Homo sapiens: one gene and its partner. The protein of the gene in region 2 purifies or fractionates together with the protein of the main gene of each other region. This does not show direct contact. Each region holds a gene or a part of one and is shown on either strand. Other genes may lie near its edges.

Region 1 (7,027 bases), on a different chromosome or scaffold from region 2:
TGTAACTTCATTTCTACCAAAACCACATGCTTGCTAAAAGGATAAGCGGCCTTCCAAGATAGAAGCATTCCTCAGAAATTCAAGGGCCTTCTTGTTTGTTATATATGCTTCTAATCATAATCAGTACATCCTAGTCTGTTATTCCTTGTACTTCTCTGCATTCTGAGCCTATGAAATTGAGTACAAAGATCTACTTCCATCCCCTATTTATTCTCCATAAACTGGGAGATAATTTTAAATTCTTTTTATAAAATATCCTTTATAGTTACTCTCAAAATGTTTGATTATTACAGTTGTAAAACTTAAAAGCTGAGATGTCATTTATTGTTAAAAATTGAATATAATCGTGAATGACTTAAAAAAAAAACGTATTCCTGGCCAGGCACAGTGGCTCACGCCTGTAATCCCAACACTTTAGGAGGCAGAGGTGGGTGGATCACTTGAGGTCAGAAGTTCGAGACTAGCCTGGCCAACATGGTGAAACCCCATCTCTACCAAAAATACAAAAATGAGCTGGGCGTGGTGGCGTGAGCCTGTAATCCCAGCTGAGGTCCAAGAATCGCTTGAACCCCAGAGGCACAACTTGCAGTGAACCGAGATCACACCACTGCACGCACTCCAGCCTGGGCCACAGAGCAAGACTCTGTCTCAATAAAAACAAACAAACAAAAAAAGATTTAAAAAAATGTATTCCTGATACCCAAAGACAATACTATGACCCTCATTACTTTAGGTAAATTAGCTTCCCATTTAAGATGGTTTGAGGAGTAAAGAAATCTGTTAACTAGGACTTTTTTCCCTAATAACACTATTTAATACATTAAGCCTAACAATTTATTATTACTATTTCCAATAGAATCTTTTTTATCTTATAAAAAAGATAAATTAGGATAATAATAAAATAGAAAAGAATAAAAGAAGTGTTTCTTTTCGAGACATCATACTGACTATCCCATAACAATATTCAGTACAGTAGTTTCCAGTTTCATGCCATGACACTAATGCAAACTTCTGAAGTCTGAAATATTTTAAATACAGCTGAAGGGCAAAATTGTCCCTTCAAAGTTTCGTAAGTATTAAAATAGTGCTTTGGTCACAATGGATGAGAAATAAGATATAATGAATGAGTGGAATACCCCAAATAAAAGGTATTATGCTTACAACGATAACCCCTTCAAGATGAAGATCATACTTCCCTCTTTCAACAAACTGTGTAGTGAATTTAACCTTGTTGATACTTCTTCTTTTAAACAATCTTTTGTATTTTAATTACTAATCACAGTTTTCACTTTGGGAATTACACAAAGCCATTTCAGGGAGCCAAGACTGCCCTAAATCTACTATTACTAATTAAACATCTTATTTATCCAACCAGAATGAAAATTCTAGAGAATTTCCAAATTCAACATGTAAGAATTATTTTCAACCACCACCAAAGGACGGCATACAACGTGACACTTCAATTTATATAAAAACAACTAAGTATGCAATAAAAATTTTAAACAGGCTGCCGTGATGTAAGTCATCACAATATCCCACACACCACACTTTAGATAAAATACTGTCAACATCTGTATGTGATGGAGGAGCCTAGAGCACACCCAAGTCAGATTCAAATTCAAGTCTGGATCATTCTTCAATGTGATGTTAAACAAGCCACTTAACCTCTGCATTTGTTTCCTCTCTGAGGAATGACGTGACATCTAAATTCCATACTCAACATGATTGTTACAATTCATAAACTATATAATGCTACAAAAAATAAGGCGTTATGCAGTTTTATTCTTTTTTTTTTTTTTTTTTTTTTTTGTAGAGATGGGATCTCCCTACGTTGCCCAGGCTGCTCTCATACTCCCGGACTCAAGCAATCCTCCCACCTTGGCGTCCCAAAATGCTGCGATTACAGGCAAGAGCCACTGTGCTCTAACCATTATGCGTATTTTTATATACTTATACATTTATGGCTAAATCATGCCAAGCCAAACAGGGCCAAATAAATAATGGCACTAAAATAATTTTAAGTTATTTATCATAGTGATTTTATGCTTCCACTGAAGACTATCGAAAATAAGTTTGGTTGAACTATGAAGTTTAAACTATTACTCACTCGCCAACGGATAGTAAGTTCTGCTTCTCATCTTTTTTTATTCGTGGGCGCCCTGGTTTCATCTTCAAAGGTGAAGTTGGAGTCTTCTGAGCAGCAGGTTGAATGAAATGTGCAAAAAGTTCTGTCTGCTTTAATAAATACTCGAATCTATTTGCCCGGTCAGTTTGCTGAAAAAAAAAAATTTAAGATACATTTTATCAGAGTATCAATTAAAACTTCAGAAATCAAAGTTTCAGCATGCCTCCATACAATGAACTCAGCAAAAAAAAAAAGAGAACTACAGATAAATGCAACATGGATGAGTTTCAAAAGCACTATGCAAAGTGAAAGAAGCCAAACACAAAAGACTACATGCTGTATGATTCCACTTAAATGAAATGCTAACTAGTGATAGAAAGCAGATCAGAAGTGGCAAGGAGGTGGGAGCAAGAACTGATTAGAAAGGAGCAGGAGCAAACTTTGGGGATGATGGAACTACTCTGCATCATGATTGTGATGGTATTTAAAGAAATATTTGCTAAAACTCATTGAATTACAAACTTAAAATTATTTTATGTCAATTATACTTCAATACAGTTGATCGGAACAATTTTTAAAATATTAAACACTGTGCAATACAAGTGAATTTACTCAGAAGCTGGAAAAAATGCAGTGCTCATTCATTAGTTAGGCTGTGACAAATTTTAAAACGGTATTGGGATTGATACTATTCCTTCCTTTCGTATCTGCCATCTGCCCCTTTGAATGTTCCCTATTATAATACCGAGAGAATGGAAAAAATTTACTTGGGCAAAAAAAACCTTAAGAGCCTCGAAGACAAATTTTCATAAAAATAATGAAATTGGGAGCCATTAGGCAGCCTTTATACAAAAACAATAATAGTTTGATGAAACAAAGGAGAAGCAAGACAAGAAAAGCTCAATAAACAGGGAAACCAACTACTCAACATCTCTGTCTATAAATGTTTAAAATGTCAGTTTGGGAATAAATTACAAAAAGACATTTTACCTAGCAAACACAAGAAGTATCCAAATGCCATAATGTTGTAACAACTACGTATTTTTAAAAGGAACATAATCATTTTTTAAGGTCACACCAATGTAAAAACTGAAGCCCAATTTGCTATTAGGAAGGCACATGGTTATAGTGTTTCATTGGGTCACAAATGGCAGTCATAGCAGCAAATGAATCTGCACAGTAACAAGACTGTGAACATGCTAGAACCCCAGTAATGTCCTACAGATGACAAGCCTCTGTTATTTATGTTTTCCAAGATTACAGACTGTTTTTAAAGTGCTGAACAAGATACATATGTGAATGCATATTTTACATAATTACATTTCTTAATTTATAGATAATGAAACAAAAGCCAAGAGCACGCATCTACAAGATGTTTGGACTGAAAAAATAATTATTGTAATTATGTTTGGAATCAAGATAAACTGCTTGAAAGAATGAAAAGGTTAAAACTGAAATGTCTTGAGGGAGAAAAACCAACAGAACCTAAAAAGCAGAAACAAGAGAGTATGATTAGGAACCTGAAAGAAATCAATTATAAAATCAAACGGAAATTAAAGTGAATAGCTTTGGACTAGCTTCTTTCTCTGAAACAGGAAGAAATGAGGTAGGATAATAGAGGCTATACATATGTTTGAAAAGAGAAAGAAAATAAAGACAGGCCTGCAATTCTTTGTGGAGGAAGATTGGAAATGAGGGCATGGTAGAAATGGAGAAGAAAGACTGATCAGAGTGGGGACATTTTAGAATGGCTAAATGAGACTGATAGGCAATAAATACTCAAGGTCCAAGAAAATAAAAACCATAAACTTATACTGGCACCAATCAGCACTAGTATTTAGTTTTCTGAAGTAGTACTCAGCATTCTGGGTTCAAGAACGAGGAGTGGATAGTGAACTTATCTATGGTTAGAACTAGCAGATGACAAGGGAGCTTCTTGCTTAGAAGAAAACTGTGCAGGTGAAGATCATGATGTCAAAAAAGGAAATAATGCTGGGAGACTGAAAAACCTGGAAGAAACGAAAAGAGTTCCAATAAAGGCCACTAAGAAAATGAAAAGCATTGTAGAGAGCCACTGAAAAACCTCCATTTCACAGTCAAATTTGTGTTATAAATAACACTTTGCAAAAATGTTAAGAAACTTGGAAGGGGCCAGATCATAAGAAAGGAGGCAAATACAGAAGCACAAAATAATCCATGCAATAATAGAAAAATACTAAACTAGGGTGATATGGAAAAGAGAATAAACTCGTAAGTAAACTTATTGTTTACAAGTATGCAGTACTGTCATGAACATCTTGAGTATACCTGAAGAGGAACTTTCATTCATTGAGGTAACACTAAGGTATGCTAAGTAAAAATTATGAATTCAGTTTTGGATATTCTCAAGTAAGAGGTATGAATAGGATTTTAAAGTAAATGAAAATACGGATTACAGGCTTCTGGGCTAGAGGTTAAGTATTTGAAAATATTCAGTTTAAAGATACCAGGTAAAAACCAGTAAGAATCAAACTGTCTAGGAAGAAATGTTCAAATTTTAATAAGGAAGGACAAAGGAATAAAAAAGCAAAGAGGATATTATCACGGGAAAAAATGTCTTTCAAGGCAAGTCAAGATTTTTGAGGAATGGTCAACAATGTCAAGCACAAATCAAGAAACTAAAACTAAGCCTCAGAATTGGCAATTAGATTCACCAGCAGAGTGTGTCAGAATCTAAACTATAAAGGGTTAAAGCAGTATTAAAATATGTAGACTGTATTCAAAGTAGTATTCACTTTAAAAAAACAGAGCGGCAAATCTATTTTTTCTCTAAGTTTGATAGCAAAAAAGGTGACAGTTACATATATACATATGTAAAATATATAACAAATCAAACCTAAAGATATATCATTTATAATTTACATAGTGTTATATGTATTGTGCATATTATACATGCACATAAAATACATACCATAATTTTAAGATTTTGAAGCTATTTAAGACATTCAAAAATATTTACTGATTTGGAAGAGAAAGTCAAAGGACAAGAAAAAAGTATGTTTTAAAAAATATGTAAGATCTGCTATGTGCCAGATACTGTTCTGGGTACTGAAGACAGAAAGAAAGATTAAGACACTGTTTTTACCCTACAGGAGCACACTGTGTAGTGGTATTCTTATTTAATACATTGTTATTTTAACTTTTTGAGATTTCAATACAATTAAATGAGTTTAATCCATATAAAGCATTCCTAACAGGGTCAGATACGGAGTAAACATTCACTGTTAGCCACTACTACTATTACTAAAACTGAATTTAAATTTAAAGCTCTGTGTAGGTACTGTTTAAGTCAAGTCATAGTTTTGAGAAGTTTCTTAGAAGATACGGAACGTGAACTGGGACTTGAATGACTCCAATATAATGTCATGTTCTTTTTGTAAAGACCCCATCTATAATATAAAAATGCTGTGAACAAGGAGCATATTTCTTTTTTTGGTAACTAGCAGAGTACAATGCTAGTCAAGTGCAGAATAAACATACACTGAGTAACTATTCTGGTCTTCACCTCGCTTCCAAGGTTAAATTTTTAAAGGTGTTGTTAACATAACTAGATAATGACATCATATTATGTTAATTCATATAATACTTCCATTTGGCTTACATAGACACATAAGATATGGAAGTTATAGTATTCCATATTACACATATTTCAAATGGATATCTGTGCCATAATTACAAAAATTAAACAGACATTGCTATGGTTTGACTGTGTCCCCCTCCAAATCTCCCATGTTGTAATTTAATCCCCAACGCAACAGTGTTGGGAGGTAGGGCCTAATAAGAGGTGATTAGGAAAAGATTACTGTCAGTATCTCAGGAGGAGGTTATCACCAGTGAGCTTGTTATAAAAGAAAGTTCAGTCCTGTCTTGCTCTCTTCTCTTGGCCTTCCTCCATATAATGACACTGCAAGAAGGCCCTCAACAAATGCTGGCCTTGACCTTGGACTTGCCAGCCTCCAGAACTCTAAGAAATAAATTTCGTTTCTTTATAAATTACCCAGTCTGTGGTATTGTTGTAACACAAAATGGACTAAGATAGATGTTTAGTACATTTAATCACCTGATAAAAAGTTTTCCTTATAGACTCTATTCACAAGCCTAGAACATACCATTTTTTCTTCATAGGTAGGATCTGGTTCTTGGATTTCCTTTTGCTTTCCAGGTGACGCATCATCAAATATTTCCTGGTAGAAAGAAATAATTAAATAGAATTGGTCTTCGAAAATAGTAAACATACCATTATAGACCAATTTCTGACCAAAACACATCTTAAATAATACATTCTCACCCCAAACTTCCTAGAAACTTAAACAGCTGTCATCTAAGCTAACAGAAAAACTGATAAAATGATATTAGATACTATGGGGATAACAACGTATTTAACCCATATATATAAACTGTATGGTTGTTGCCAAGATTAGAACACAAGATTATCTTCATCATCCTAAAAGAAAACTACATTTAATACAAGCCAATCTGTTTCTCTTTTTCTGTAATAACCATGAAACCAAACTAAATAGTATAAAATGTGGGGAAAAGTTCCCCTTTTGTCATAAAACTACAGTATCTACTGTGCTACCACACAAATGTCTACAAAGAAATCAGAATTAGTCACCCTGATTTCCACCTTCTGGAATATTACAAAAACTTTATCTCGCAGCCTAAATTGAATACTCTAACTACAGTCTGATTCCTAAACTAGTAATAAATGTTATTCTTGCAAATATATTTATCCTGACATTCATATGTCACAAGCAACAAAAAACAACTTCTACACTGCAAAGTTCTATTCATCCATTAAAAAAAATTGGCAGAAGTAATCTTCATTAATGATGCACAAATCTATGCTAGGCAATATATGCT
Region 2 (7,027 bases):
TGTTAGCCAGGATGGTCTCAATCTCCTGACCTCGTGATCTGCCCGCCTCGGCCTCCCAAAATGCTGGGATTACAGGCGTGAGCCACCGTGCCCGGCCCCTAAAGATGCCTTTTGAGTTTCATGTTGTAGGCGTCTTGTCTTCAAGACATGCAGACAAAATGAATGTATTCATTCAACAAAGTGATTGAGTCTGTGTGCATGAACTGAGAGGACAGTGAGACGGAGAAGTCCCTCCTGTGGAGCTTTTATTCTCGTGGAGCAGAAACCAGGCATTTGGCCTTCCTGAGCGCCCGTCATGCCCTGTTCTTTCTGGTTGCATCCCATTTTAGAGCTTCCCAGCATGGCCAGTGATTCTGATGACAACCATCCCCTCCCAGTGTGTTTCACGTGCATCTGCCTAGAGTCCGTGAGCCACAAGCCGTCTCTCAGCCTCTTACGAATCGGGCAACCCACGGTTAAGGACATTTCCATTCTCCGGCCCACTGTAAGAGTGAATGTAGAGGTGCTAGGTTTTACCTTTGTGTCCGTGAAAGGGGTGAAAGGAAGTGTACAGGGACCCCAATGTCCTGCCCTCTTTCAGGGACTCAAACAATTTCCAGGTGGGGCTTGAATCACCACACATCCACCTTAATCTGACTCAGGCATGTTCTTCACATTAATACTGTCATTTCAGCTACTGAGTTATTTTTTCTCCTCTTTTTTTTTTTTTTTGCAGCAGAGCCGTTGCCTGGCCTTGAAGAGAAACCACCAGGTGTTGGTACTTCAGAGGGGGTCTACCTCACACAACTACCTCACCCCACACCTCCCCTGCAGACTGACTGCACCAGGCAGAGCTCACCACAAGAAAGGGAAACAGTGGGCCCGGAGCTCAAAAGCAGCTCCTCCGAATCTGCGGACAACTGTAAAGCAATGAAGGGCAAGAATCCCTGGCCCTCGGATAGCAGCTACCCCGGCCCAGCCGCCCAAGGGTGCGTGAGAGACCTCTCCACGGTGGCAGACAGGGGCGCTCTATCCGAGAACGGAGTCATTGGGGAAGCATCTCCTTGTGGATCGGAGGGGAAGGGCCTTGGTAGCAGTGGTTCCGAAAAGCTGCTCTGCCCCAGAGGCAGAACGTTGCAGGAAACCATGCCATGCACGGGACAGAACGCAGCGACACCGCCCAGCACAGACCCCGGTTTGACGGGAGGCACTGTGAGCCAGTTTCCCCCGCTGTATATGCCTGGCCTAGAGTACCCGAATTCAGCTGCCCATTACCACATCAGTCCAGGCCTGCAGGGTGTGGGCCCTGTGATGGGAGGGAAGTCCCCAGCATCCCATCCCCAGCATTTTCCCCCAAGGGGCTTTCAGTCTAACCACCCACATTCTGGAGGCTTTCCCCGGTATCGCCCCCCACAAGGAATGAGGTATTCCTACCACCCACCGCCACAGCCTTCCTACCACCACTATCAGCGAACTCCTTACTATGCCTGTCCACAGAGCTTTTCTGACTGGCAGAGACCTCTCCATCCCCAGGGAAGCCCAAGCGGACCCCCAGCCAGTCAGCCTCCCCCACCAAGGTCCCTCTTCTCAGATAAGAATGCCATGGCCAGTCTGCAAGGCTGTGAGACACTGAATGCTGCCTTAACTTCTCCAACCCGTATGGATGCAGTGGCTGCTAAAGTCCCAAATGACGGGCAGAATCCTGGTCCAGAGGAAGAGAAGCTGGATGAATCTATGGAGAGGCCAGAGAGTCCCAAAGAATTTTTAGACCTGGACAACCATAACGCAGCTACCAAGCGGCAGAGCTCGTTGTCAGCCAGCGAGTATCTCTATGGAACTCCTCCGCCTCTGAGTTCAGGAATGGGATTTGGTTCATCTGCATTTCCACCCCACAGTGTGATGCTGCAGACGGGGCCTCCCTATACCCCTCAGCGGCCGGCCAGTCACTTTCAGCCCAGGGCTTACTCTTCCCCTGTGGCTGCCCTCCCACCTCACCACCCAGGGGCCACCCAGCCCAACGGCCTCTCTCAGGAGGGTCCCATCTATCGCTGCCAGGAAGAAGGCCTGGGTCACTTTCAAGCTGTGATGATGGAACAAATTGGCACTAGAAGTGGAATAAGAGGACCTTTCCAGGAAATGTACAGACCATCAGGGTAAGATTGCATTCAGGCTTTTCCCCCTAAAGAGAGAACAGATGTTTATTTTATGTATTTATTTTTGAGACAGAGTCTCACTTTGTCACCCAGGCTGGAGTGCAGTGGTGTGATCATGGCTCACGGCGGCATCGACCTCCCAGGCTCAAGGATCCTCCTGCATCAGCTGTTTAAGTAACTGGGACTACACACATGCCACCACACCCAGCTAACTTTTTGGTTTTTTTTTTTTTTTTTTTTTGGTGGAGGTAGGGTTTCACCGTGTTGCCCAGGCTGGTCCTAGTCTCCTGAGCGCAAGTCATCCTCCTGCCTCAGCCTGTCAAAGTGCTGAGATTACAGGCATGAGCCAGCACACCTGGCCTGGATGTTCATTTTAAACAGAAAAATGGCCTTAGAGATGAAGATAACAGTTCATGGTCTAGGAACAAAAAAAATATGTGAATTATTGATGTTGTACACTCTGTAGGAAGGTATTAAACTTAGAGCCCAACTTTATCTTTGAAATTTTTTCCACTCATGAAAATGAACTGGCATTTAAATGACTGACTTAGATTTTGATATTGTAAACTTTATTTATTTATTTATTTATTTATTTATTTTTGAGATTAAGTCTCACTCTGTGGCCCAGGGTGGAGTGCAGTGGTACGATCTCTGCTCACTGCAATCTCTGCCTCCCAGGTTCAAGCGATTCTCCTGCCTCATCCTCCCAAGTAGCTGGGATTACAGGTGCCCGCCACCACACCTGGCTGAGTTTTGTATGATACTATAAACTTAATAACCACAGTTTGAGAGCTGTAAGCAAGCCTGTGTCAACATTGCTGCCATGTGGAGACACTCTGACCAAGGTAAAAAAAAAAAAAAAAATAGGCCTACCCAGGAGTAGAAGAGGAGATCATGTAGTATTGAAGTTTTACTACATACCTCTCATTTCTTACCCTATCATTGAATGAGAAAACCAGGTTTATCCAGAATGCAAACAAGTCCCCATGAGACTTCTTTCACACATGCTTGTGTAGTGTTGTTCTCCAGATCCAGTTAGGTGATCTGCCATCCAGGAAGTTTTCAAATCGATAGATACAAATGAAAGTTATGAAGCGGCCAGGCGCGGTGGCTCACACCTGTAATCCCAGCACTTCGGGAGGCCGAGGCGGGCAGATCACGAGGTCAGGAGATTGAGACCATCCTGGCTAACACGGTGAAACCCCGTCTCTACTAAAAATACAAAAAATTAGCCGGGCGTGGTGGTGGGCACCTGTAGTCCCAGCTACTCGGGAGGCTGAGGCAGGAGAATGGCGTGAACCTGGGAGGCGGAGCTTGCAGTGAGCCAAGATCATGCCACTGCACTCCAGCCTGGGCAACAGAGCAAGACTCTGTCTCAAAAAAAAAAAGTTATGAAGCATAGTCTTGAAACCAGTACCATTCAGCATAAAAACCAGTGTTCCCCTCCTCAGTGCCATCCTGTCATCTTATTGCTAGACCCTCTCTACTATTTAACATTTTGTCGTGTTTGCTTTATATGTCTCTAAATACCTGTTTTCTTTGCTTTGCTTTTTTTCCTAAGCTGTTGGAAAGTAAATTGTAGACATCATGGCCCTTAACCCCTCAATACTTGAGCATGCATCTCCTAAGAATGGACATGCCTTGGAGCACCATTTCAAAACGATTACCACACTCAAGGCAAATAACAGTATCTAATAGAGTTTTTGTTTCTGTTTCCTCAGTTGTCCCCAGAGTGTCTTTTAGAGTCGTTTCTTTGTGTTCTATTTTTATTGTTTTTTTCTGATAAAGGATCCAATGAAGGCTCATGGATTTGCATTTGGCTGCCGTGTCTGTTTAGTCTCTTAATTTATAGCAGTTGTCATATCTTTGTTTTGTTTTCCAAAGAGTCCAGGCCAGTTATCATGGAGAGTGTTCCAGATTCCAGATTCATCACACAGTCTCCTTGTGTGTAGATGAAACTCTTGTGCCAGGTGCAGTGGTTCATACCTATAATCCCAGCACTTTCGGGGGCTGAGGCAGGAGGATTGCTTAAGCTCAGGAGTTCGAGACCAGCCTCGGCAACATAGTGAGATCCTGTCTCTAGTGAAAATAAAGAACTTAGCCAGGCATGGTAGCACACACTACTCAGGAGGGTGAGGCAGGAGGAGCACTTGAGCCCAGAAGATTGAGGCTGCAGTAAACCATGATCCTGCCACTACATTCTAACAGGGTGACAGAGCAAGACCCTGTCTCTAAAAGAAAAAAAAAAATAGATTAAACACTTTTGTCAGGAGTGCAGTAGGTGGTGCGTGTGCGTGCCACTTACTGCCCCAGGGGGCACAGAATGTCGAGTTGTCCCAGTATGGATGATTCCAGGCCTGATCACCGGGGTGATGAAGGCAGTACCCTCGTGACTACAGTGTCTTGTTTCTTCTGTCGTTAACACGTCTTCATTAATTCTTCATTGCTTCTTTCTCGTGGCTGTAGAATGCAGATGCACCCGGTCCAGTCGCAGGCCTCGTTCCCAAAGACCCCCACAGCAGCAACATCACAGGAGGAGGTGCCGCCTCATAAGCCTCCAACACTTCCCCTGGATCAGGTAAGGATCACTAAAAATTAGAGCTGTTCTTCTTCCTCCAGGTGGTAGGAAGTAAGTATATGACAACCTTGCTGTTCTGAAAAAATGTTTTAAGGTATCCTGTGGATACAGGAACTTTGCCTGTATCGTGCTTCCTTGGCACTTGGAAAAAGAGCAAGAGGCCTCGGAAGTCACCTCTCACATGTCTCTTTTTCTTATTGTGATATGGAATGCATACCTATTTGGTGAGTATTTAAACCTCATTTTTTCCAAGCCATCTGCAAACATTTTTTCTGCCATGATCCCTTGTCTGTTTTATGCTTCCCACCTTTCTCATTGGAGAGAGACTAGTTGGTGGGTTTTAAAGTAGTAATAGCTGCCTCTGAGTGCTGCTTCTCTCCCATGCGTTGTCTCGTGCAGTGCTTCTCTCCCATGCAGTCTTTCCCTTGACCCCCACAAAGTAGTTCTCATTGGCTGCATCATCATCATTTCCCAGTGTGCAAGTCCTACTACTGTTAAGCACTGGGACTGGGATCTGAATTGAGAAGTCCAGGACTCTAGAACCTACCCTCTGGAAGTAAACTGTAACTGATGAAACAGAATCAAGCCATTTTCACACATGAGGAGCTTGGACATTCTTTGGCTTACTTAAGTTTTTTTTTTTTTAACAACCCAATTTTTATTTTTGTTTAAAATGTCTTTGTTTCTTTCAGAGCTAGTCCAAGGAGGAAATGAGCCCCAAGCAATGGAAAGCTGCACACGAAGACTGGAATGTGGAGAACTGGGGAGTGCCCTGTCAGCTCTATTCCCATCACCTGCTCCACCCCTTCACGGCGACCCACTCGTGCCATACTTGAGCTGGAGCCAGTCACGGGCCCTAAAAGGACACTCCTTAGATGACTGACACACAGATTGCAAAGGTCCTCGGCCAGGGATCTCTTGCACAGCTGATGTAGACAGTCAGGCAAAACTAATGAACGTGGAGTTAATGATGACTTTTCCAAATCCTGAGACACTTTTCAGGGAAAATCACTTTAAACTTGGGGGAGGGGGTATACTCAAGAATGGAGTGGTGCTTTTAAACTTTGATGAGCAGCTAAACTCAGGTATATATTTGGGGAAGGGACTACTCTTAGTATTAATGGTTTTGGAGCTGGGTCCAGTTTACAGAATTTTCATGTTGCCTTTTAAAATAATTTTTGTTGGTGGTGAATGTATTGTACATAAAGTGGGAAGGGTGGGTGGGGATGCGGAAGAAATGGGGGTCCTAACTGGTGGGCACACAGCACTGGAGTGATTTTTATCTGTTTACAATCATGTCACACTGAATACTTATGGGAGCCGGAGATGAGGGTAGGAAAGGTTTGATCTTGTAATATGTCACTGTGTTTCCTTAGTGGCCAGCCAGCCTTCAGAATAGCTAAAGGCCTTCCTTCCTTCCAGTCAGCCTGAGAGAGAACACCTGTCCCCTAAGCACCTGGTGTCTCCATTGGAGGCAGACTGCTCTCAGGAGACTACTAGAAGCTTCAGCCCGGAAGACAGGCTGCTCTCTCATGCTGGTGGCCCAAATTGAGAAAGTGGTGTCCCTTCCTGATTTTGCCACCAGCCCTACCGAATAGTTGTAAACCAGTATCAGGAATTGGGATCGCTAGAGTGTTTCACGTATTAGAAGATGAATCGTCCTCATCACAGACCTCCCTGTCAGGACTGTGATCTAGAAGGCATCACACACAGCTTTCTGGCACGAATCACATTTTGTGGAAGTGACTACTCAGGTTTGTATATTTTAGTATCAATAAAGAATTGCACAGGTTTGAATAGGAAAAATGTATTCTATAGATTTACAGTTTGAATTTAGGAATATTTCAGTATATATAGTTTTTATTCGTTTTAAGTGAATCATAGTAAAATCAGTCATGGTGATTTAAAATAGCTATCAAGAACAAGTTCTTGGAATTATCTGTTGTATCTGTGATAGGAAACCATTTTACAGTATTAAATTACTTTATTACAGTTGTAGAGTTGAATTACACTGGATTCTCCCTCGTTAGCATTCTGTATTTGATTTTAGCTGAAAGGTCACCAAAGTTAGGACCCATGTTTTAAACTTTTGAATATTCCACAAAAGAAAAAACTAAGGAAAATACTGAAATTACAGGTCTTTGTAAAGAATAGCATATTTTTAAGCATGCTTTTGGGATAGTAGAAGAGTCTCTATGAAATATTAATCTGCCCTAGTTTCTTATAAATTCAGCTGTGGGAGGGGCCAGTAGAGTGTTTCCCTCCAATTCCAGGATTCCTAGTGAAGCATGGAACTGTCGTGTTTACAGTTTGCTAA

What was found. The genes of interacting proteins can lie anywhere in the genome.
Region 1: the proteins of CECR2 (region 2) and SMARCA5 purify together in Homo sapiens (affinity purification with mass spectrometry; 3 studies listed by BioGRID and IntAct, with this or other methods). This does not show direct contact.

The regions. Positions count from the first base shown.
Region 1 is NC_000004.12:143,516,676-143,523,702, reverse strand, and holds part of SMARCA5 (SWI/SNF-related matrix-associated actin-dependent regulator of chromatin subfamily A member 5), read right to left. Parts: intron 6,349-7,027; coding exon 6,274-6,348; intron 2,275-6,273; coding exon 2,108-2,274; intron 1-2,107. UniProt on the Homo sapiens protein: ATPase that possesses intrinsic ATP-dependent nucleosome-remodeling activity.
Region 2 is NC_000022.11:17,547,433-17,554,459, forward strand, and holds part of CECR2 (chromatin remodeling regulator CECR2), read left to right. Parts: intron 1-715; coding exon 716-2,132; intron 2,133-4,598; coding exon 4,599-4,710; intron 4,711-5,402; coding exon 5,403-5,408; 3' UTR 5,409-7,027. UniProt on the Homo sapiens protein: Regulatory subunit of the ATP-dependent CERF-1 and CERF-5 ISWI chromatin remodeling complexes, which form ordered nucleosome arrays on chromatin and facilitate access to DNA during DNA-templated processes such as DNA replication, transcription, and repair.